7 linked regions of the Homo sapiens genome follow. The protein of the gene in region 1 purifies or fractionates together with the protein of each later gene. This does not show direct contact. Each region holds a gene or a part of one and is shown in the gene's direction. Other genes may lie near its edges. The genes, in order: FAM241A, TMEM245, ARL6IP5, REEP5, MACO1, ASPH and RTN2.

Region 1 (3,500 bases):
TTGAGCAAAAAATGAAGGTTCTTCTGTCATTCTGGCCTGAGTCTTTCCAGGTAGGGCGATTGACAAAGGATGCCTGGTTAAAATCAAGTCACTTAAGAAAGGAGGCCTTGGGAGAATGAATCAAGTCCTGTAGATGAAGAAACTGTGCCAGGTTTGAAATAGGATCAGGTGTCTAAAGAGAGATAAGCAAGGGAAAGAAGCAATTTCAGGGAATGTCCAAGAAACTGAAGGGACAGGACACAGCTATTCCATATATGTGTTGGTAATTGTGTGTATGAGAGATGATCCAAGTATGTTCATGAGGGTGAATGCCAGGTGGCTTTATGTAAGAGTTTCTGTGCCCTGATGCATAGCTGAAAGGCTAAACATCTCTAGTCCATTATTATATGCCTTAAATGTCAATAGCATCTGCTTAGATGTGGCACAATGTACAGGTCACTCACAATCTGAAATAACCTAACATGACCCTCTTACCTAGAGAATAGGGAAGTCCCATTATCCTTAGATTGACTTTCGAATTATTAACTCTAGCTTTAACGTCTTTATGATTATAAAAGTAATGTGTGCTTTGGAAAATTAGAACTATAGAAAGATCTAAAGAAGAAAAAAGCCTTTGAAATCCCACTCTATTTTGGGATTTTGATATCAAATATTTTGATATCAAATATGAAACTTGGTATTACTACAGTATATTCATTTGTCTATGTGTATATGCATATATACACACTTTTTTTTTGAGATAGGGTTTTGCTATGTTGCCCAGGCTAATCTCAAACTACTAGCCTCAAGCAATCCTCCCGTCTCAGCCTCCCGAAGTACTGGGATTACAGGTCTGAGCCTCTGTGCCCAGCCACACATGTATTTTTAATATGTTTTAATATAAATATAATTTTGTGTCTTCTTTTACAAAAGGTTGTGTCATTTTCCCATGTTATGGAAATTCTATGTGAAAACTCTCTTTAGGGCTGCCAAATAATTCATTCCCCTAACACCGCACATTGAAGTTGCTTCAAGCTTTCTTTTATAAATCGTGCTGTCTGAAAATATTTGCTTGTAAATCCTTAAACTTCTACCCTGGTATAGATTCCTAGAAGTAGAAGAACTAGGTCAATGAGTCAAACTCTTTGAAGCCTCTTGAAACATCCTAAAGAATTTAATTCAAGAAAGGTTGTACTCATTTACACTTGCAGCACTGGTGTGTAAAAAGGCCAGTTGGAAACCATCCATGCCAGCAATGAACAATATAGTTTATAATCATTGCCAATTTCATAGGTGAAACTTCTATCATATTGTAAGCTGTTGCTGGAGAGGTTTACTAAACCATTCATATATTTATTAGGCATTTGTATTTCTTTTTAGTCATTTTTTTTCTTTTGGCATTATAAGGATATTAATCCCTTATTTTCACATTGGCTGTAAATATTTTCTCTGCTTGCTATTTACTTTATAATTTTATTTATGTTTTTTAAAATTTGATAATGCTTTGAATTTTTATTAAAGGAATTTTTTTGGTAATTTCGTATATACACACACCACTCACATGTATACACGTATCTCTTTCTATACATATTAAGAAATTTTTTCTAATCTTACAATCAGTTAAATATTTGCCTATGTTTTCTTTTGTATGTGTGCATTTATGGTTTAATTTTTTACTCTATATATTTAATCTCTTTAGAATGATTTTCTATATTGTATGAAGTATGGAGCTGATCTTTTTTTGTCCTAATCATTGAATAATGTACTTTCTGCCTTGCTTTATAATCTTTTATAGTATTAAGGATTATATTAAAGTCTGTATTAAGTTTTTATATTTTTGTTGGTATTATGAAAAGGATTTTTTCCATATCATATTTTGTTGGTGGTTTCTAGCTATTGGCTTTTATGTATTTCATTTTTAACTGGCCATCTTTCTAAATTTTTATACTGGTACTAATAAATACTAGTAGCTCTTAGACTTGATTCATTTGCATCTTCTAGGTATATAATTATCCAGTTTATAGATAAAAATAATTTTGCTTCCTTTCAAATGATAATGTCTCATTTCTATTTCTTGCCTTTGGCAATGCCTAGAACTTTCAGAACAATGCTGGCTCATAGATAAATGTAAGTAAATAAATGAAGGAACTTCTGTAACAGCATTTGCCAAAGTGTGTTCCATGAGATGATCTGTAAAAAAGAAAACAAAATGGGGGGTTCAGTGAGGGGGGTCCATGCCTTTTGATCTATCAGTAGAAATATGATTAACAGTACAGATTCTAGATCAGGGTTACCTGGGTTTGCCTTTTATTGACTGTAACTTTAGGCAAGTAACTAACCTCTCTGGGCTGCAGTTTCTGCATCTGCATAATGGGAATAATTGTAACAACTTCATAGGATTATTGGAAGGATTATATGAATTAATAATATATGAGATGTACTTAGAGCAGTCTCTGGCACATAGCTATCTAGCATGTGAGTGTTAGCTGTTAGGCCTAATTTTGGACCAAAGTCCTAACTGAAACGAAATCTGAGAAAGGCAATTTTAAGTTTTCCAGCCTCTGCAATTAGAAAACCACCTGAGGCGAAAAGCAGAACAGCATTAATATAGTTTGGGCGTTTGTTGCCTCCAAATCTCATACTGAAATGTGATCTACAGTGTTGGAGGTGGGATCTGGTGGGAGGTGTTTTGATCATGGGGGTAGATCCCTCATAAACGGCTTAGTGCTATGCCTTTGGTGACAAGTAAATTGTCGCCCACTTAGTTCACACAAGATCTGGTTGTTTAAAAGAATCTGGGACCTCTCTCCCTCTCTCTCCTTCCCTCCCTCCCTCTTGCCATGTGACACTGCCTGCTCTCCCTTCACCTTCTGCCATGATTGTAAGCTTCCTAAGGCCCTTACCAGAAGGAGATGCCAGCACTATGTTTCGTGTACAGCCTGCAGAACCATGAGCCAAATAAACCTCTCTTCTTTATAAATTATCCAGTGCTATATTGTCTGTGTCTGATTTTTTTATAGCAATGGAAACTGACACAAGTATTCCTCAACTTCAGTGTGCATAGGAATCATCTCTTATTAAATGCAGATTTTGATTCAGTTGGTTTGGAGTGAGGTCTGAGATTTTGCATCTCTACAAACTCCTAAGTGATGCTGATGCTGTGCCCATGGACCACATTTTGGCAAGGGAATGGAGAATAAGCAAGTCAATATACTGTATTCACCACACTTGCCCTTCAACATAGTATCAGTAATATATACATATGAAGTTGTTTAACTATTTTCTTAGAAGTGTATATTTAAACTCTTGGTAAAATATGAGAAGCCAATAGTTGTTCCCTAGGCCACGTTATTTGCTGTAGGTCCTACAGCTAACTCATGCTAGAGCAGACTAGAACCCAGGTTTCCGAACACCAAAGCTAGTGTTTTTTGTTTGTTTGTTTGTTTCACAAATACAAAAAGCACATTACATGATGGAAAAACAGTCTGACAAATTTTCTGCCCTACTTTAGATGGTGTAGT
Region 2 (3,500 bases), on another chromosome or scaffold:
ATAAGTTTGGAAAAATATGCCCTCTTATCTGTAACTGTGGCTCATTGATTTAATGCCTGGAATAAAATTCACACTTGAATAGGTTTGCTCAGAGGCTAAACATATATAAAGTTGACTTGTTAACCTCATGTTTCCGTGTTAGTGAAGATTTAAGAATTAAAAAACTCCTAAGAGGTCCTAGACTAGAAATTGTGTGTGAAACATGCATGTACAAATCCTTATTTTTGTTATTTTAAAGGATATTTAGTGATTCAAAATGTTGACCCAAGTAAAATATGCTTGTTACATTTGAAAAAACATAAGCAGAACAGAAGTTTGTATGGTAAAAGTGAATTATCCCTTTCCTTCCCCCGCCCTGCCCCTGGCCCCGCTGAGATGGAGCCTTGCTCTGTCACTCAGGCTGGAGTGCAGTGGCTCGATCTTGGCTCACTGCAACCTCTGCCTCCCGGGTTCAAGCAATTCTCCTGCCTCAGCCTCCCGAGTGGCTGGGACTACAGGCATCTGCCACCATGCCCAGCTAATTTTTGTATTTTTAGTAGAGACGGGGTTTCACCATGTTGGCTAGGCTAGTCTTGAACTCCTGACCTCATGATCTGCCCATCTTGGTCTCCCAAAGTGCTGGGATTACAGGCATGAGCCACCGCGCCCGGCCGAATTATCCCTTTTCTCTACCACTATTCCCACTATTCAGATGTTACTATTAACTGCTTGATGTAAAGGCTCCTAAATTCATTTCTTTGTCCATGTGAACATATAAAGTAGAAGGTTTTTGTTTTTTGTTTTTTAAAACAAAGATGAGATAACATACATATAGCTCTGTACCTTGCTCTTTTCATTTATCATTGTACTGTGGCCATCTTTCCTTATTAGCACTTAGAGATATACGTCTTTCTTTTTTTTTTTTTTGAGATGGAGTTTTGCTCTTGCTGCCCAGGCTGGAGTGCAATGGTGCAATCTCGGCTCACTGTAACCTCCACCTCCTGGGTTCAAGCGATTCTCCTGCCTCAGCCTCCCAAGTAGCTGGGATTACAGGCACATGCTACCATACCTGGTTAATTTTTGTATTTTTAGTAGAGAAGGGGTTTCACCACATTGGCCAGGCTGGTCTCGAACTCCTGACTTCATGTGATCTGCCCGCCTCAGCCTCCCAAAGTGCAAGGATTACAGGTGTGAGCCACTGCCCTGGCCACTTTTTTCTTTTTAATACTGCTACAGTATAAATCTTTTTTCTCCCCCTCCCCCACCATGCCTTTTAGAAAATGTTTTCAACAGATTTTCTTAGCTCTGAATTTGTATTAGAATACTTTGATAAACATTTTTAACCATTGGTAATTGTATAATCATAATGGGCTTAATATAAACTCTAAAGTGTTTTTATAAATGGCCTTACCTCTTGAACTAATATTACTTCTGCGAATCTTTTCTGAGGAAACACTTCAAAATACTGGAAAAAATCCAGAAGCCAAAAGAATTTCCTAAAGGTTAAAAATACTTCTTTTTCTGTTTATAAAGATACTACATAACCTTAGTAGAAAATTGAGCACCTGTAATAAAACATAAAGAAGCAGATTACTCCTTGAAATCTGCCATCTAGAGATAATATTTTAAAACATTTTTTGTTGAGTATATTTTCACCATTATAAATTTACACACGAATAAATTGACACTGTAGCACTGTATATTGATGTTCATCATACTGTTGAAAGTCTGACTAATTACTCAATTTTTGGAGATAGCATTATTTAAACAGTTCACTATAAAATGATATTTAAGTTCTCAATTTTTTATATTGTAAATGGCAAGTGAATATTTTTATATGTGTCTGCACAGTGTGCTTCTGTAAAACACTCCTAAAAGTAGAATTGGGGAGTATATTTTAAAATGGTTATTTTAAACTGGAATGAGGTAATCTGTGAGTTTCAGGTTGATAGATGAAAATACATGCTTCTTGTTAGACAATAAATTTCTCTTAAAAAATCTGAAGTATGCAGTCTCTTATTTTTTCTCTCCTTGCAAATGATACTAATTCCTTATGCATACAGATAAGAAACAAAAACTTCTTGGAGGTACTGTATAAATTGTGACCTCCAGTTCAGCTTCTTACTAAGGGTAGTACTTACTTTGTCATCTCTGTTCAACGTTTGCTCAAACACTTTTAGTAATGATTATTCCATTTGTAGATAGCTATAGTTTATTGGAAAAACCTGTCCTTTTACTGAGCTGTGTTATTTCCTAATTCCCACGTATTTCTGCTCTCAGAACCACAGAAAATCAAGTCTTATGCCTCTCCCAGATGACATTTTAAAAATTATTTGAAGATAGCTACAAAATCTTGATATTTCCTTCTCTTTTCTGAGCAAAACTTTTTTTTTCTTTTTCCCCTAGCTACATTTATATTATCATGTTGTGATTTCTATTTCCTTTCCCAGGCTGAATTTTGTTGTGTGGTTTGGTAGCGCAAAATTAATTGAAACAATCACTTTCCCTGATACGAGTATTGTACTTTTAGAAATAAGTGCTTCTACTAGTCATAGGCTGACTCATACTGAACTGAAAAGTGGTTCAGATGTTCTCTTTCCATTCCATACTTGTACAGTTGAGTTTTGAATCTCGAAGCAGAACTTTGCATTTCTTTTCATATAGTTTAATCTTGTTTGGATTAGCCCATTGTTCTGGCTTCAGGATATCTTTTTGAATCATGATAGATTATCTCAATATTTATTGACAACTCAGTTTTGTATAACTGATTTGTGTAAAATCAGTTTTTTCTGTTATTGTGCCTCTAGTCTTTCATCTAAGTGACTGACGTAATGTTTAATAGGGTGGGGCTAACTGACGTACCTCTGAAGACTATCCATTTACTGTGGATTTTTTTTTAATTTCAACAAGTTGTAGTTGTCTAAATTGACTGTTTTTATTTTCCCTTGTGAAAATCTGAGCAGCTTTTGCTTATCTTTAGTATTCTAGCACCATGCTTCTTTCTCCTTAAGATTAGAAAAGTGCACTCTGGAGCCAGATTCCTGGGTTCTAATCCTGCCTCTGTCATTTATTGGCTGTGGCCTTGGGCAAGTCACTTCTCTGAAATCTGGGTTTCTTTCATGTGTAAAATGAGGATCATAATAATATTATTTTGTGGGGTTATGAGGATCAAATGAGTTAGTATACATAAAGCATTAGAATAGGGCCTGGCACATAGGAGTGTTATATAAGTGTACTATTATTGTACTCAGATTTTTTTCTATGCTCTGCAATCAGATCTCAAATTCTTTGAATTCCCAGGGTTAATTGGTCTGGTCCAGCAAGACTGGACTTTTTGAAGCAGCTGTAGTCTCACTTCCCATGTCCTCATATTTTTGAGCTTCAAAGCTCTTTAATATTTCATCTGATAGAGTTACTTGAAGAAATATTTTAATGTCCTTTTTATTATAAAAGAATTAGTGCTTATTAAAGGCAGTCTGGAAAATACAGAAAAAAGTGAAAGGAAAAACAAAATTTTACCA
Region 3 (3,500 bases), on another chromosome or scaffold:
GAATCACGTTGGGAAGTTTAGGACCTGTATCCACACCCACTAATAGCCACCTTGTTTCAGAGAGAAATGAGAGTGCAGAGGGATTTTCCAGGATGATCCTTGGTTATAGTAGGTTACTTAGAGTGTGGGGGAAATCCTTAAAGCCGGTTAACATGACAGAATGGGTTCTACTGTGAGTTGCTGCCACAACTGGCACCCTTGTTTTCTTGTTTCTCTCCTGGATCCCTTTGGATATGTTTCTTCTCTGGGCCTCAGTTTAGTTATCTGTATAATTGGACTAGACTGATTCATCTTTGAAGACTGCTACAAAATTTCTGTGATGGGATTCTAAACCTTTTTATAACCATAAATGACTGCTCTAGAATGTGTAACTATTATAGGGAAAGATTTATTAATTATTTATTGGAATTGGGTAATACATGTTCATATTTTAAATATATATAATTAAAATATATACAAACATATGTATTAATATATTTTTAATTTCACAATAGAAAAACATAACGGTTTTTGAGTTGCAAAACTAGGTCCTGCTGTTTCTCCCTTCTTTCTCACCATCCCTCGTTCTTTTTTTTTTTTTTGAGACGGAGTCTGGCTCTGTCACCCACGCTGGAGTGGCACAATCTCAGCTCACTTCAACCTCCACCTCCCAGGTTCAAGTGATTCTCGTGTCTCAGCCTCCTGAACAGCTGGGATTACAGGCATGCGCCACCACGCCCAGCTAATTTTTATGTTTTTAGTAGAGATGGGGTTTCGCCATGTTGGCCAGGCTGGTCTCAAACTCCTAGCTTCAGCTGATCCACCCACCTCAGCCTCCCAAAGTTCTGGGATTACAGTTATGATCCACCGCACCCAGCCCTCTTTCTTACTCTAGGACTATCAGTAAGTGAAACTCCACCCAGCAGACCACAGAGGCAGCTGTCTACATGAAAGATGGGTGGCATGTTTATGGAAAGTTTTGTCCTAAAAGTCTTTGGGGTTTGTCGTGATTGCTGTGATAAACAGCCCAACTGTTGACTAAAAAGCATCTCAGGCAAGAACTGGTTCCCAGATTTCTGAGAATTTCTGTTAATCTGTAGAGGGTGTGTGTGTGTGTGTCTGTCTGTCTGTCTGTCTGTCTTTTGTTCCAAATACAGGTAAGTGCCAGGGCATTGGAGTGGTATACATTTTATCAGATACAGAAGAAAATAATTTCTGCTCAGAGTAACTTCGTTAGTTTTTTTCCAGCTTGGAAACTTGCTTGCTTTCTAATTATAGACTGTTGTTGGGCAGGTTATGAACTAAAACCAGTTCTATAGAACTTCAGGCTCTGTTCTTTTCTCTTGGACATGAGCAACCAGAACAGGTGAAACAAATTTGGAATTGCTTGAGTTAGGCCTGGATTTTTCATTGTTCCTTGTCCTGGACTTTAGGCACTCAACCTAAATATGTATTTTACTTGTCTAGAGGAAAATAAAAACAGCTTGACATGAATTTTGTTATATGCTTCACTTCATGAATTATTATTTTAATAAGTATTCCAGAATGAACTGAGTAGGAGCCCTTTGATGCTTTGCTGCCAGCCAACCCACTCCTACTTGCAGGGTATGCAAAGGAATTTCCTTGAATTTCAATCCTCCATTTGAGTTCTTTGTGTTGATTTGATCTTTGTTTTGCTTTGCTTTTTTTTTTTTTTTTTTTTTTTTGAGACGGAATCTCGCTCTGTCACCCAGGCTGGAGTGCAGTGGCACAATCTCGGCTCACTGCAGCCTCCGCCTCCCGGGTTCAAGCAATTCTCCTGCCTCAGCCTCCCAAGTAGTTGGGATTACAGGCACATGCCACCAAGCCAGGCTTAGTTTTGTACTTTTAGTAGAGACGGGGTTTCACCATGTTGACCAGGATGGTCTTGATCTCCTGACCTTGTGATCCACCTGCCTCAGCCTCCCAAAGTGCTGGGATTACAGGTGTGAGCCACTGTACCTGGCGATCTTTGTTTTTCTTTACGGCTCAGAAGAAACATTTGGGTAGGTTATAGGTCAAAGTCAAGGCTTTGTAAAGGGTTTTTTACATTCAGGAGCCTTTCCCCAATTTCATTTGTTCATTTTTAAATACCAATTTTTTTTATTCATCAAGGAATACATGGCCATTGAAAAAAATATGAAAATAAAAATAAGCAAATGGAAATAAACTCCCCTTATCCTACTATACTGTAGTCTTTGGTATAATTTTTCAGTTTCTCTAAGTATCTTTTTATTTTTTAATTGAGACAGGATCTCACTCTGTTACCCAGGCTAGAGTATAGTGGCACCATCACAGCTCCCTGCAGCCTTGACCTCTGAGCTCAGATGATCCTCCTACCTCAGCTTTCCAAGTAGTGGGGACTATAGGTGTGTGCTGCCACACCTGGCTAATTTTTGTGGGGTGTTTTTTTTTTTTTTTGGAGAGATGGGGTTTCGCCATGTTGCCTAGGATGGCCTCAAACTCCTGGGCTCAAGCGATGCATCCGCCACCTCGGCTTCCCAGAGTGCTGGGATTACAGACATGAGCTACCACACTGGCTTAGAATCTTTTGTGATGCTGGGAATTAGATAATATTAATCTATAAGAGTTTCAAGGCCTCTTCATTCACTCTCCACTCTCTACAACCTGCTGAAGGGGATTGTGGTTTTGATTCATCAGATTCTTTCCTTCCTCAGGCGTATAAGGGAATTTTTTCTTTCCCAGACCAATTCCGGGGTTGTCTCAGAAGACAGGGCATAATCCAGATAAAATAAAACAGAAAGAAAGTGCAGAGAGGCCAAGTAGACCCAGGTAACACAGAACCAAGAGGGAGGGGAAGAGGGCAGAGAGAATAGCACATGTGCTGGGTATTGGGGAAGGTTGGGGCACTGGGGTGCTATAGACTGGCACAAGAGGATCTGGAGGATGAGCAGAAAACCAGGATTTGGATTGGAGAAGGAACAGCTTCGCTGTGGTTCATGAACTGAAATTCCATTAATGTTGTTGGCGAGATGGGACAAGTAGAGATGGACTTTTGTGGTTGGTCTGTGCCAAGCGGCGGTTGTGGGTTGGAGAGCAGCTGCTTTTATGTTTTTGTATTTCCTTTTTTATATATTCATTTTATTTCTGATTATGAAATAATATACTAATTATAGAAATTTCTATTTCTTTTTTTTTTGGAAACAGAGTCTCACTCTGTCACCCAGGCTGGAGTGCAGTGGCGCAATCTCGGCTCACTGCACCCTCTGCCTCCCGGGTTCAAGTGATTCTCCTGCCTCAGCCTACCAAGTAACTGGGACTACAGGTGCCTGCCACCATACCTGGCTTTTTTTTTTTTTTTTTTTTTGAGACATAGTTTTGCTCTTGTTGCCCAGGCTGGAGTGCAATGGCACCATCTCGGCTCACTACAACCTCCGCCTCCCAGGTTCAAGCAATTCTCCTGCCTCAGCCTCCGAGTAGCTGAGATTACAGGCTCCCGCCACCGAGCCCAACTAATTTTTTGTATTTTTAGTAGAGACAGG
Region 4 (3,500 bases), on another chromosome or scaffold:
GCGCTTTGCCTTCTGGGGTAGTATGAAGCACAAGCCAATGTGGCCTTCTGGCCGATGTGCACTTGGATAAAAAATATAACAGGCATTCTGCAAACTGTGACTTAAGCAATTTACTTAAACATTTAAATCTTTAATTTACTTAATTTAAATCTGAAATCTTAAGCATTTAAACATTTAACCTTCCTCAACTTTTTTACTGTCCTTGTTTCACTTAACATTACTGCTAAGAGTGCTGGACTCTTTTAAGATGAAAGTGTTGTGGAGAAATGAAAAAGTAATAAAAATATCCTTATAACAACTTGTGACTATTTTGTAAAATAATGACAGCCAGCGTTTCAGTTAAGGTTCGCCCGCTTGCCTGTGTCATAAAGAAAATAAAGTTTTAAAAAGCAAATAAGATGAATGATTTAAATTATTTATTCATGATCAGAGTTTCTGGGCTCTAAAGCAGTTGTGGAGGAGGATCTCATTTCTAATACTCTATTCTGGAATGTTCCTTATGAGCTTTTTTTTTTCTCTTTATGAAGGCCCTGGAGATTTAGTCTATTTGTCCTTCTTTCTGTCGTAGCCTCCCTCATCTCCTTCTGACCTGGACTTCTCTTTTTCAGGACTGACTTTGAATGAGGACTCAGTTTTCAACTTAATTTTTTCACATGGCATTTAAAACAAGTATAAATACAAATATAACATGTTAAGGTATTTAGTGGTGATTCATAACATTAACAATTAATTTTGGGGAAGTATGAATTAATATGGCAGAAGTTTTAAAACAATTTCAAAATTGTGAATGAAATTACTTTTTGTAGCAGCTGAAATATAAGTGGGGGCTGTAGAAACGTACCCTGACTTCATTCTGTCACTTGCACACTTTCCTGATTCCAGGGAGTGGAGCTTATCAGTCACTCTGAGTCATGTGTCTACTATATATATCCTGCAGCCTCTGATAGACCAAGTGATCTAGTTAAGGGATCGCTCACTTGTCTAGACTGCGGTCCGCATCTAAGGTGGCCCTCCTTTACCTAGGAAAAGGCAGCTTAGGTTGTTCCCCTTCTAAGTTGTGAGGTTACTTGAGATTAAGTTAAACTTTATGATACCAATCTGACACAGATACTTATAGAACCACTGGTTTTATTGACAAAGGGTTGTCCCAGTGGGATTTGCATCTGCTCTTTTATTGCTCCTGGCATTAATCTTTTTTACCATCAATCATTCAAACAGTTTTTTTGGGGGGACAGGCAGGGAGGCTGAGATGGGTGGATTGCTTGAGTTTGAGACCAGCCTGGACAACATGGCAAAACCCCATCTCTACAAAAAATACAAAAAATTAGTACACGCCTGTAGTCCCAGCTACTCCAGAAGCTGAAGTGGGAGAATCACCTGAGCTTGAGAAAGTCAAGGCTGTGGTGAGCTGTGTTGATGCCACTGCACTCAGCCTGAGTGACAGAGTGAGACCCTGTCTCAAAAAAACACACACACACTTGGGAGGCTGAGGAAGGAGAATTGCTTGAACCCAGGAGGCACAGGTTGCAATGAGCCGAGATTGCGCCACTGCACTCCAGCCTGGTTTTTTTGAGTGTGTTTTTTTTGAGACAGGGTCTCACTCTGTCACCCAGGCTGAGTGCAATGGCATGAACACAGCTCACTGCAGCCTTGACTTTCTCAAGCTCAGGTGATTCTCCCACTTCAGCTTCTGGAGTAGCTGGGACTACAGGTGTGTACTAATTTTTTGTATTTTTTGTAGAGATGGGGTTTTGCCATGTTGCCCAGGCTGGTCTCAAACTCCTGGGTGCACACACACACACACACAAACACACACACATTCAGTTTTGAGTTATAAAATGTTAGCTAAAAGGGGTCTTAGAGACTAAGCTGCTAGGGTGATAGCCACCTGTAACAGATGTGGAAATCAAGGCCACAAACTGAAGTTAATTGACATAGGTCACAGGTGTGTTGGGACCAATTCAGTCTTAAGTGTAGGGATGTCTGTCCACATTCCGCATTGTTATATTTGACTGTGACTGACTCTTCCATTTTGCATTTAAAAACAAAATGGTGGATAGTGGTAAATGAGATCACTGTAATTAAACACCAAAAGATTTGACCACTGAATGACTGCATTTTTTTCTTTATACTTCATTATAGGTATTCTATAGACTCATCTTAATTTTTTTTTTTTTTTTTTTTTTTTTTTAGCCAGGGTCATACTCTGTCACCCAGGCTGCAGTGCAGTGGTGCAATCATGACTCACTGCAGCCTTGACCTCCCAGGCTCTAGCTATTCTCACTCCACTGCCTCTGTAATCTTTTTTCTTTTCTTTTCTTTTTTTCTTTCTTTCTCTTTCTTTCTCTTTCTTTCTTCTTTCTTTCCTTTCTTTCTTTCTTTTCTTTCTTTTCCTTTCTGTCTGTCTGTCTTTCTTTCTTTCTGTCTTTCTTTCTTGATGGAGTTTCCCTCTTGTTGCCCAGGCTGGAGTGCAGTGGCGCAATCAGCTCACTGCAGCCTCCACCTCCCGGGTTCAAGCGATTCTCCTGCCTCAGCCTCCCAAGTAGCTGGGATTACAGGCATCTGCCACCAATTTTTTGTGTTTTTAATAGAGATGGGGTTTCACCATGTTGGCCAGGCTGGTCTTGAACTCATGACCTTAGGTGATCCATCTGCCTTGGCCTCCCAAAGTGTTGGGATTACAGACATGAGCCACTGTGCCCGGTCAGTCTTTCATTAGTCTTTCTCGTACTGTTTGTTGGTTTTCTCTCTTGCTTTAAAAGCACATATACTCTGCAGTGAAAAAGATATGTAACTTTCTGATCACGCATAGTTTCCTGCCTTCTTTTTTTCTATGAAGGAGAAAAATATTTTCCTTATTGGCATGGAAACGAACTAGTGTTTATGTCTTAAAATGTCTGATTCTTTTTTCCTTCTTATTTGAGGTACTGATAATAGGAAAACCATTTTGAATTACTAAGAATTCCTACATCATACTCTCTGATAAATACAGCCAAAAGCAATCCCATGCATGGTGGGCATGGAGGATGGTCAAGTTATGTGTCTGCCATAACAAAAAGGATTATAAACATTATGGTCCATGTTCTTCATATTCAATTTCCAAAGAACCTATCTTAACCTCTGGAATATTTGCTATTAAACATAAGTTACCACATTAGAAATAAAATATAAAGCAGATGGACCAGAAGATGATTCCTTTCTGTTCTTTACCAATAGGACATCTTAAAGCTTTTTATCCATATATATGGATAAAATTAAAATATATATGGGTATAAATGGATATATAGATATATTTTAATGAACTGCTTTTTTTTCCACACTGTCAGTCTCTGGTAAATAGTTGATATTGGTACAACTGGTTTGAATAATAAAGCCAATGCTGTGAAGACATACTATTACTTAATTTTATGTCATTTGGCTAGTTTGAATTGTAGCAACTGAGTTACTTATGAACCATGCACAGAACACATAGTATGTACCTATGTGTCTTAGGTGTGAGT
Region 5 (3,500 bases), on another chromosome or scaffold:
GCCACTCACCTTGACCTCTCAAAGTACTGGGATTATAGGCATGAGCCACCGCACCCACCCAACACTTTTAAAAACCAAATAAATAGCTGAGTACTAAAATCAGTACTTTGCCTATCTTGTAGCAAGAATAGTTGAACATTAAAGAGAATGAATACTATGTTCATGTCCAAAGTAAGGATTCCTGTCTCAGAAAAGAGAGATACTGTCTGAGGCTTGAGTCGTCTTGCTCAGATGTAATAAGAATTTTTGGCCGGGTGTGATGGCTGTAACCCCAGCACTTTGGGAGGCTAAGGCAAGAGGATTGCTTGAGTCCAGGAGTTCAAGACTAGCCTAGGTAACATAGCGAGACCTCATCTCTACTAAAATTCAAAAAAATTAGCTGGGTGTGGTGTCACATTCCTGTAGTCCCAGCTACTTGGGAGGCTGAGGCGGGAGGATCACGTGAGCCCAGGAGTTTGAGGCTGCAGTGTGCCATGATCGTGTCACTACACTCCAGCCTGGGCAATAGAGCAAGACCCTGTGTCAAAAAAAGAGAATTGGCTGGGCGTGGTGGTTAATATAATCCCAAAGTGCTGATATTATAGGCGTGAGCCACCATAATCAGCCCCCAATTTAAAGGAAAAAAAAAATCTAGAATGGAAATCGCTAAAAAAGGTTTTCACGGTTTTGTAGTATAACATTTTTATAAAGGTCTGTATAGACCACAGAGATATCAAGGACAGGTATTGTAACCTAATGCAGGTGGTGAGTTTTAGAATTTCTGTTTCAAGAATACTTTTAACAGTGTGGAGTCTATGGGGTTGAGGAAGGGGAGGGGTGAAGAAGCATAGGCGGAGAGAGAAAACAACTCACAGGCTCTAAAAAAACCTGTTAACATTATATAAACATTAGAAATTCATTTCATAAGGGAATCAAAATTATGCTTCATATAATTGATAGTAATAATCTGCTTAATCACACCTTACATTTCTGTCTTACTTGTAACTTTTCCAAATGTTTTCATATTATCTCATTTTATCCTCACAAGTGTGAAATAGGCAGAGTAGGTATTGCCATTTTATAGGAAACAAACCTGAGGAATAGAGAACTAAAAAGCTGCAAGGCACTATTGAAAGAGTACAGAAACAGAAGTTAGGAGACTGCAGAGAACAGTGTAAATTCTATGTGGAACTCTATGTTGCTGCTAAAATGGATAAGGGAAATTCTATATAAAGAAGTGGACATGACTGGGCCCCGTGGCTCACGCCTGTAATCCCAGCACTTTGGGAGGTCGAGGCGGGTGGATCACCTGAGGTCAGGAGTTCAAGACCAGCCTGGCCAACGTGGCGAAACCCCGTCTCTACTAAAAATATAAAAATTAGCTGGGCGTGGTAGCATGCGCCTGTAATCCCAGCTACTTGGGAGACTTGGGAGAACTGCTTGAACCCAGGAGGCAGAGGTTGCAGTGAGTCGAGATTGTGCCACTGCACTCCAGCCTAGGCAACAGAGTGAGACTGTCTCAAGAAAAATAAAATAAAATAAAAAACTAAAAAAAAAAGAAGTGGACATGTCAAACAGAAACCTGTTTTTGTTAAGAAAGAAACACATTTGTTTATATAGAAAAAGCAAATTATATTTATGAATTATATAACAGCAATCATCTTGGGGCAGGACTACTAAGGGCTTTTATATTATACATTATATTACCTTTTTAATAACAAGTATGTGTTGCTTCTTTTTAACTTCTCATTTTGAAATAATTTTAGATTTAATTAAACAGAAAAGTCACAAAAATAGTACAAAGTACTTACACCTTAGTGAAAGGCATAAGATACCCTATTTATTTATTTATTTATTTTTAAAGAAAAAAAATAGCCAGGCATGGTGGCTCTTGCCTGTCACCCTTGCTACTTGGGAGGCTGAGGTGGGAGGATCGCTTGAGCTCAGGAGTTGGAGGTTGCAGTGAGTTATGATCACACCACTGCGCTACAGCCTAGGAGACAGAGTAAGACTCTGTCTCTGAAAAAAATAAACAAACAAAAAAGGGCATATTTCACACTGTTAGATTTGTCATTGCAGTGGCTGCACATGTACGCGCGCGTGTGTGTGTGTGTAATTGACACTAGAAAGGTTCCCTTTGCAGTATGCAGGAGGCCTAGAATAGAAAAAAGAAATATAGAACAGCTTGGTCTTCTCAGCCTGCTCCCCTTTTTTGGATTTTATACAAGGAGGTGCCTGCAGAATGCAGCAGTGGTTCCAGTTTATTTTATGTTAAGGCTCACACACAAATTTCTGTTTTTTTTTTTTTTGTCAAAAAATTTTTTTGTCTCTGGATCTCTTTACACTCTTAAAAATGATTGAGGCTGGACACTGTGGCTCACACCTGTAATCCCAGCACTTTGGGAGGCTGAGACAGGTGGATCACTTGAGGTCAGGAGTTTGAGACCAGCCTGACCAACTTGGAGAAACCCCGTCTCTACTAAAAATGAAAAATTAGCTGGGCATGGTGGCGCATGCCTGTAATCCCAGCTACTTGGGAGGCTGAGGCAGGAGAATCACTTGAACCCAGGAGGCAGAGATTGCGGTGAGCCGAGATCGTACCATTGCATTCTAGCCTGGGCAACAAGCGAAACTCTGTCTCAAAAAAAAAAAAAAAGATTGAGAATATCACAGAGATTTGGTTTATATGGATTATATCTATCAATATTTACTGTATTAGAAATTAAAACTGGCTGGATGTGGTGGCTCATGCCTGTAGTCCCAACACTTTGGGAGGTCAAGGTAGGAGGATCACTTGAGCCCAGGATCTTGCTATGTTGACCAATCTGGGCAACATAGCAACATCCCATCTCTACAAAAAAAAAAAAAAAAAAATTAGCCAAGCATGGTGGTATGTGCCCGTAGTCCTAATTACTCTGGAGGCTGAGATAGGAGGATCACTTGAGCCCAGGTTGAGGTTGAGGCTGCAGTGAACTATGATTGTACCACTGCACTTCAGCCTGGGCAACAAAGGAAGACCCCAGTTCTGGGAAAAAAAAAAAAAAAAGAAGAAAGAAAAAAGTTAAAATAGAAAAATTTAAAACATTAGTTCACTTAAAAGTACCAATAAATTGCTGAGCACAGTGGCTCACGCCTGTAATCCCAGCACTTTGTGAGGCCAAGGCAGGCGGATCACCTGAGGTCAGGAGTTCGAGACCAGCCTGGTCAACATGGTGAAACCCCATCTCTACTAAAAATACAAAAATTAGCCAGGCATGGTGGTAGGCACCTGTAATCCCAGCTACTTGAGAGGCTGAGGTGGGAGAATCACTTGAACTGGGAGGTAGAGGTTGCAGTGAGCCAAGATTGCGCCATTGCACTCCAGCCTGGGCGACAGAGTGAGACTCCATCTCAAAAAAAAAAAAAAAAAAGAAAAGTAACAATAAATTAATAAATTCATGAGAAGACTGGTGTGGTTTTACATTTTTGCATAGCTCTTTAGTGTCTGGCTTACTAGAAGATACTTTGAGAACCACCGCTGT
Region 6 (3,500 bases), on another chromosome or scaffold:
GTTAAGTGTTCAACACATTTACCCTTCAGCTCCCTAAGGGTATAAAGCCTCTTCAGCTGTTTTTCTCTGTTCCCATCCATAGTTGCTGTACTTTCGCTCTAGAAAATGGTAGGACAGGTCGAGGAGATAGCACATTCTAGTGGGTTGTGAAGTGGATTAGAAATGAACGGCTTTCCTGGTCTGGCCTGTGTCACTCTAAGTTGTCCTCTCTCTTTAGTCCAGGGGGTGGTGGTTGTCAGCCTTGTGGGGATGAGTGGACTGAGAAGGAGAATGTGTGAGACATCCCACAGTGTACTTCTAGTGAAATATAAAAGTGTTAAGCAGACTTTTAATTGATAGTCCCATTTTTTAATTTTTTAAATAAAATTAATGATAAGCATAGATTCAGAGTACATATACGGGATATATACATACCATTTTGTAAAAGCAGTAAATATCAATCTAATTTTTTTTTTTCCAGAAACCGAGCATAGTTACCACGTGGAAGAGACAGGTGAGATTTTAATTTAATTCTGTTCTTAATTAGAGTGAGTCTTCCTTTAAAAGGGCATCATAAAATACATAATATCTATTATTAATGATATATTTAAATTAATATATGCAAGATATGCAATTAATAATTTTATTACGTCTTATATTTATGGTATTTCTTTGTGAATATACTTTTTTGTGTTTTGATGCCTAGTTCCTGAGGATAAATTTTCAGTAGGATTACTAGTTCAAAAGATACAATTGAATTGCATGTTTTGTACCTTTCAATTACAGAGTCAACGAAAGGTCTAAATCATGTTTTGTCACATGCCAGCGCCCTTAAAGGGCATGGCCACAGGAGGTGGGCGCATCATCTGTCAGCACTTTACTGTTTTGCGGTTTGAGTGTAAACCAGTTGATGACAGGCCCCCCTTACTCATCTTTGCATTTGGCATTTAACACACTTAATACCTATTTGTTTCAGGAGTGAACATGTTTGAATATCATTATGACTTGATTTTGCATTTCAATCATAACTAGAAATTGTGTCTTTCTGGTTTCGAATATTACATGTATTCCTTATTTGAGACGTAATTTCCTAATTATTCCATAATTTATAGTTTCACAAGACTGTAATCAGGATATGGAAGAGATGATGTCTGAGCAGGAAAATCCAGGTTTGTAAATGTTAAAATTATTGATATGTGTTTTCTGATTGAGGCAGTGGCCAAGGCCGTTTTATTCCAGGGTTAACAATTGTGATTCAACACAGAGATCCCTGTATGGTATTTATAATCACTTTTGATTGGTCAGATGTTTATAGAAATGTCTGAATATAGTTTAATACTACATAGAGGGATGAGAGAAAAAGGAGACGTATTTTTCAAACCACTGTTGAGACTTTGGTCTTTGTAGGTAAGGTGCTGGAAAGAATATTTGAAAATTGAAGGGGCAGTATGATGTACTATAAAGTCATTCTGGGTACAAATCCCATTTCTACTCTTTCCTATCTTTTTGACTTAGGCATCAAATTGTGGAACGTTATTCAGCTTAAATTTTATTAAATGATAATGAAAACATCTATCTGGCAAAGTTGTGAAGATAATTAATTTATGAATCTCCTAGAATGCTGTCTGGCAATGTGTTTGGTTTTTTCCTGTTTGGCAAAGGTGTGTTTTTGTTTTTTAGATTCCAGTGAACCAGTAGTAGAAGATGAAAGATTGCACCATGATACAGGTATTAGATGAGCATTTTCATTAGATTTAAAATATTACCTTAGATTTTTCAATCACATGCTGTGTTTACATGGTGATTTTTCTTTTAAAGGCATCAAAGAAGTAATTTCGACATCTAATGCATGAGATTTTGTTTTATAACAAAGTTAGACTGTTATAAGAATATCAGGCTTTCATATTTCACCTCATCAACTAACCATTCCATAACAAAACAGGATGTCAAATTTTAATGCTGTTTTTGTGTATCAAATTCCTCTGTGCCAATTTGAGAAATTTTAATGAAAATAATTTACCTGCCTTTTAATTGCTTTTGGGCAGAGGCATTTATTATTGACTGAGCAGACATTAATATTTGAAGGAGTAGAGTTCTGTGTTTACGATTAAGTAGTATTTTGTTTTAACTGAACAATTGTATAGAATGACTCAGTTAATACTTATTTTGCTTTTATTCTCTTTTTTTTTTCAGATGATGTAACATACCAAGTCTATGAGGAACAAGGTTTGCAAATGCTTTCTTTTTTTTTTTTTTCTTTTTTTTTTTGAGATGGAGTTTCGCTCTTGTTGCCCAGGCTGCAGTGCAGTGGCACAATCTTGGCCCACTACAACCTCCGCCTCCTGGGTACAAGCGATTCTCTTGCCTCAGCCTCCTGAGTAGCTGGGATTACAGGCATGTGCCACCACGCTTAGCTAATTTTGTATTTTTAGTATTTTAGGGTTTATCTCAAACTCCCGATCTCAGGTGATCCTCCCGCCTTGGCCTCCCAAAGTGCTAGGACTACAGGCATGAGCCACTGCGCCCGGCCTGCAAATGCTTTCTAACCTTAAGCCACCTTCTTGTTTTAAAATATACCTATAGTTTGACTACAAGATGTGGAACATTATGCTTTAAACTATAAACTTTGCAACTTAAAACATCCAGATGAACGGTAGCGTTCAAAGAATTCACTTGGGGAGACTGTTTACCCATTCCACGGCTTCTGCCATTGCCTAAATAATTTCTTAAACTCTTTACAAGTTGCCTTAGGAGGCAGTTACAGTCATTCAAGAAAACCAATCTCAGTACTTTATAGTTGTGTCTCTTTTGACTAAAATATGCATGAACAACTACTTTAGCCGGAGTTAAATTGCTCTAGCTGCTTCTACAGGTTAATCCCACTCTCAAAGATGACTGATTTGTCACCTTGGGGAAGGTTAAGAAGCACTGTGTTCCAGGCTTAAAGGCAGTATGGAGAAAACAGTTCTGGCAAATTTGTGGCATCAGCAGCATCTGATTCAGTTTAGGCCTGTACCTCCCTCCTCTTGTGTCCAAGCATTGCATAGACTATTGTGTTGAACTCCATGAAGTAGATTTTATTTTCCCTGCTTCCCAGAGGACAGAAATAAGGTTCTGACATTATAAATAAGCTGCCCAAGAATGTATGGCTAAGAAGTAATAGAACCAATAATATATCCTTTTTATTCCATTATCCTCAAAGATGATTATGTAGAAAGAGAGAAGTCAGTTGGGTATAACTTTATGTGTAAAGCAAGAACGATGAAGAAATACATCGTAATTGAGTTGGTGGATATGGAGGACTTTCTATGTTCTAGATGGTTTTAGGGCCTGGAATTCAATTATGAGTAACATAGGGTCCCTCCTTTCAAGGAGTTTACAGTGTCATGATAGATAGTGAATCACAATTGAAGAAAATTAGGAGTGTTTATAAATATGAATCATATTTATATGATGATTTAAGATTTGAGACCCTACCAAGTTCATCATCTATAGTGGCTATTTCTAATGGGATATGAATG
Region 7 (3,500 bases), on another chromosome or scaffold:
GACGTGATATCACATCTGGCTAGACGTGATAAACTCCGCTTTTTAAAAAAATTTCCCCGGCCGGGCGCGGTGGCTCATGCCTGTAATCCCAGCCCTTTGGGAGGCCGAGGCGGGCGGATCACTTGAGGTGAGGAGTTCGAGATCAGCCTGGCCAACATGGTGAAACCCCGTCTGTACTCGGGAGGCTGAGGCAGGAGAATCGCTTGAACCTGGAAGGCAGAGGTTGCAGTGAGCCAAGATCGCGCCACTGCACTCCAGCCTGGGCGACAGAGCGAGACTCCGTCTCAAAAAATAAAAATAAAATAAAATAATCCTCCCTCTTCTGGAGTGCTCCTCCTAGTGGCTGATTTTGGACAGGCCAAATCCCTGAAAAAATACAGTTCTCTCCTTATTTAGATGTGGCCGTAGAATATTTATAAGTAAACTCTGTGCCTTTTAAAAACTCTTCTTTTTGGCCGGGCGCAGTGGCTCATGCCTGTAATCCTAAACACTTTGGGAGGCCGAGGCGGGAGGATCCTTTGAAGCCAAGAGTGCAAGACCAGCCTGGGCAACATAGGGAGACTCGATCTCTATTTGAAAAAACAAACAAAAACCCTCTTTTTCCTGACCACATCTATTGGCCAGTTGTAAAATGACCCAGCCTTACTTTAAAATATGCTCCGCCTCCAGGAACAGCTATGGAATGGTTAAAGACATCATTGCTTTTGGCTGTTTACAAGACGGTTCCAATTTTGGAATTGTCCCCACCTCTGTGGACAGCCATTGGCTGGGTCCAAAGGGGCCCCACCCCCCCTACTCCTGTCCTCCGGGTTCTACTGAAGTGGGCAAAATCCCCGAGAAGCAGCGGTGTCCCCAGCCTCTCACTCGGAGCCGATATGGGGAGTAAAGGTGGGCTTGCGGAACGGGCTGGACGGGGGCTGAGGTCGGCGGAACGGGGTCCAAACTCGCCCTTATCTCCTGCACATCCGGAGCATTTTTATTACTGATCTGCTTCCGCAGCGCTGCAGGCTGGGGCTAGGGGGCCGAGGGGCAGTATAGGGAGGACCCAGAGGGAGCATGGGGTCCCTTCTCCTTCGAGCCAGCACTTTGGGGCCCAGGAGCAGGGAGGACCCCCTCCCCCAGCCTCGGCCCCAGGCAGCGCTGTCACTCAGGGGCCAGACGGGCCAGAACAGCTGCGGGGAGGCCCCCTCCCCCCAGCGTGCCTAAACTTAGCCCCCGCCTCAGGCGACCTGGCCCCTCCCCCATCCACCGGCGCCGGCCACTAGGAGCCTGCCTGGGAGGGCCCTGCTATGGGGAGGGAGGGGCTGCCCTATTTGGAGGTAAATGAGAGGAGATGCATTGGAAGGAGACGGAAGTGAGGGGTGAGCCTCTAAGAGGGACCGGTCGGAGGGGTCAGTTGGAGGGAGTGTGGGAGGATAGAGAGGATCTGGAAAGAAATAGAAAGGTACTGAGTTCCTGGTTTTCAGGACTCAAAGGAAAGCAGATTACTAAAGTTTCTTTTTCTTTTTAAGCCACAGAGTCTCCCTCTGTCGCCCTTTCTGGAGTGCAGTGGTGGGATCATAGCTCACTGCAGCCTCCAACACCTGGGCACAAGTGATCCTCCCACCTCAGCCTCCCAAGTAGTTGGGACTAGAGCCACAGGCCACCACGCCCTGCTAATTTTCTTATTTTGTTTGTAGAGACAGGGTCTCACTATGTTGTCCAGGCCTCAGGTGATCCTCCCGCCTCGGCCTCCCAAAGTGTTGTGATTACAGGAGTGAGCCTAAAGTTTAGACAGATGAGATGAAGGTTGGGGTACAAAGGTCACTGGTCAGGGCTGAGGTTGGGTTTAGGAGGTGTGTTTTAGGGTCTCAGAAAGGGGTCAGAAATTTGAGTTAGGCCCTGGAAAGGAGTATGGCGTGATTAATACATTTAGGACTTAGAAACATGTGTTGCTAAGGGTATCAAGGGGATATCACTTTACACCTGACAGATTGGCAAAAGTTAAAAAGAACTGCAACCCACTGCAGGGCAGGATGCTGGGAAAAGATCTTTCTCTTGCTTCTTGTGGAAATAAGAACTGTTATGGTCTTACTAGTAAGCAGTGTTTCAAAATTTATGACATTAAAAAAATATATATGACCGAGCGCGGTGGCTCATGCCTGTAATCCCAACACTTTGGGAGGCCGAGGTGGGAGGATCACTTGAAGCCAGGAATTCAACCTGGGCAACATAGCGAGACCCTATCTCTACAAAACATTTAAAAATTAGCCAGGTTTAGGAGGTCGAGGTGGGCAGATCACAAGGTCAGGAGATCGAGACCATCCTGGCTAACATGGTGAAACCCCGTCTCTACTAAAATACAAAAAATTAGCCGGGCATGGTGACGGGCGCCTGTAGTCCCAGCTACTCGGGAGGCTGAGGCAGGAGAATGGCGTGAACCCGGGAGGCAGAGCTTGCAGTGAGCTGAGATCGCGCCACTGCACTCCAGCTTGGGCAACAGAGCGAGATTCTGCCTCAAAAAAAAAAAAAAAAATTAGCCAGGCCAGGCATGGCAGCTCATGCCTGTGATCCCAGCTAGTTGGGAGGCTGAGGCACAAGAATCTCTTGAACTCGGGAGGCAGAGGCTGCAGTGAGCTGAGATCATGCCACTGTACTCCAGCCTGGGTGACAGAGGAAGACTTTGTCCAAAAAAAAAAAAAAAAAAATTAGCACGATATCGTGGTGCCACCTGTAGTCCCAGCTGCTAGGAGGCCGAGGTAGGAGGTTTGCTTGACTCTGGGAGGTAGAGGCTGTAGTGAGCCATGATCACGCCACTGCACTCCAGCCAGGGTGACAGAGTGAGACTCTGCCTCTAAAAATAAAAAAAAAAAAAATGTGGCCGGGCGTGGTGGCTCACGCCTGTAATCCCAGCACTTTTGGAGGCCAAGGTGGGTGGATCACCTGAGGTCAGGAGATCAAGACCATCCTGGCTAACACGGTGAAACCCCATCTCTAACTAAAAATAACAAAAAATTAGCCAGGCATGATGGCACATGCCTGTAATCCCAGCTACTCGGGAGGCTGAGGCAGGAGAATCGCTTGAACCCGGGAGGTGGAGGTTGCAGTGAGCCGAGATTGCACAATTGCACTCCAGCCTGGGCAACAAGAGCGAAACTCTGTCTCAAAAAAAAAAACAAACAAACAAACCAAGGTCAGGCGTGGTGTCTCACGCTTGTAATCCCAACACTTTGGGAGGCCGAGGTGGGAGGATTACTTGAGGTCAGGAGTTCGAGACCAGCCTGGCCAACATGGTGAAACCCCATCTCTACCAAAATATAAAAAATTAGCCGGGTGTGGTGGAGCCCTCCTGTAATCTCAGCTACTCAGGAGGCTGAGGCAGGAGAATTGCTTGAACCCAGGAAGCGGAGGTTGCAGTGAGCCAAGATTGTGCCATTGCACTCCAGCCTAGGCAATAGAGCGAGAATCCGTCTCAAAAAAAATAAAAACAAAAACAAAACACACACACACACACACACACA

The links.
Region 2: the proteins of FAM241A (region 1) and TMEM245 purify together in Homo sapiens (co-immunoprecipitation; 2 studies listed by BioGRID and IntAct, with this or other methods). This does not show direct contact.
Region 3: the proteins of FAM241A (region 1) and ARL6IP5 purify together in Homo sapiens (co-immunoprecipitation; 2 studies listed by BioGRID and IntAct, with this or other methods). This does not show direct contact.
Region 4: the proteins of FAM241A (region 1) and REEP5 purify together in Homo sapiens (co-immunoprecipitation; 3 studies listed by BioGRID and IntAct, with this or other methods). This does not show direct contact.
Region 5: the proteins of FAM241A (region 1) and MACO1 purify together in Homo sapiens (affinity purification with mass spectrometry; one large-scale study listed by BioGRID and IntAct). This does not show direct contact.
Region 6: the proteins of FAM241A (region 1) and ASPH purify together in Homo sapiens (affinity purification with mass spectrometry; one large-scale study listed by BioGRID and IntAct). This does not show direct contact.
Region 7: the proteins of FAM241A (region 1) and RTN2 purify together in Homo sapiens (affinity purification with mass spectrometry; one large-scale study listed by BioGRID and IntAct). This does not show direct contact.

The regions. Positions count from the first base shown.
Region 1 is NC_000004.12:112,148,454-112,151,953, forward strand, and holds part of FAM241A (uncharacterized protein FAM241A), read left to right. Parts: intron 1-3,500.
Region 2 is NC_000009.12:109,109,948-109,113,447, reverse strand, and holds part of TMEM245 (transmembrane protein 245), read left to right. Parts: intron 1-3,500.
Region 3 is NC_000003.12:69,094,937-69,098,436, forward strand, and holds part of ARL6IP5 (PRA1 family protein 3), read left to right. Parts: intron 1-3,500. UniProt on the Homo sapiens protein: Regulates intracellular concentrations of taurine and glutamate. Negatively modulates SLC1A1/EAAC1 glutamate transport activity by decreasing its affinity for glutamate in a PKC activity-dependent manner.
Region 4 is NC_000005.10:112,912,228-112,915,727, reverse strand, and holds part of REEP5 (receptor expression-enhancing protein 5), read left to right. Parts: intron 1-3,500. UniProt on the Homo sapiens protein: Plays an essential role in heart function and development by regulating the organization and function of the sarcoplasmic reticulum in cardiomyocytes.
Region 5 is NC_000001.11:25,437,397-25,440,896, forward strand, and holds part of MACO1 (macoilin), read left to right. Parts: intron 1-3,500. UniProt on the Homo sapiens protein: Plays a role in the regulation of neuronal activity.
Region 6 is NC_000008.11:61,641,593-61,645,092, reverse strand, and holds part of ASPH (aspartyl/asparaginyl beta-hydroxylase), read left to right. Parts: intron 1-460; coding exon 461-493; intron 494-1,091; coding exon 1,092-1,148; intron 1,149-1,659; coding exon 1,660-1,707; intron 1,708-2,172; coding exon 2,173-2,205; intron 2,206-3,500.
Region 7 is NC_000019.10:45,490,548-45,494,047, reverse strand, and holds part of RTN2 (reticulon-2), read left to right. Parts: intron 1-669; coding exon 670-888; intron 889-3,500. UniProt on the Homo sapiens protein: Inhibits amyloid precursor protein processing, probably by blocking BACE1 activity. Enhances trafficking of the glutamate transporter SLC1A1/EAAC1 from the endoplasmic reticulum to the cell surface.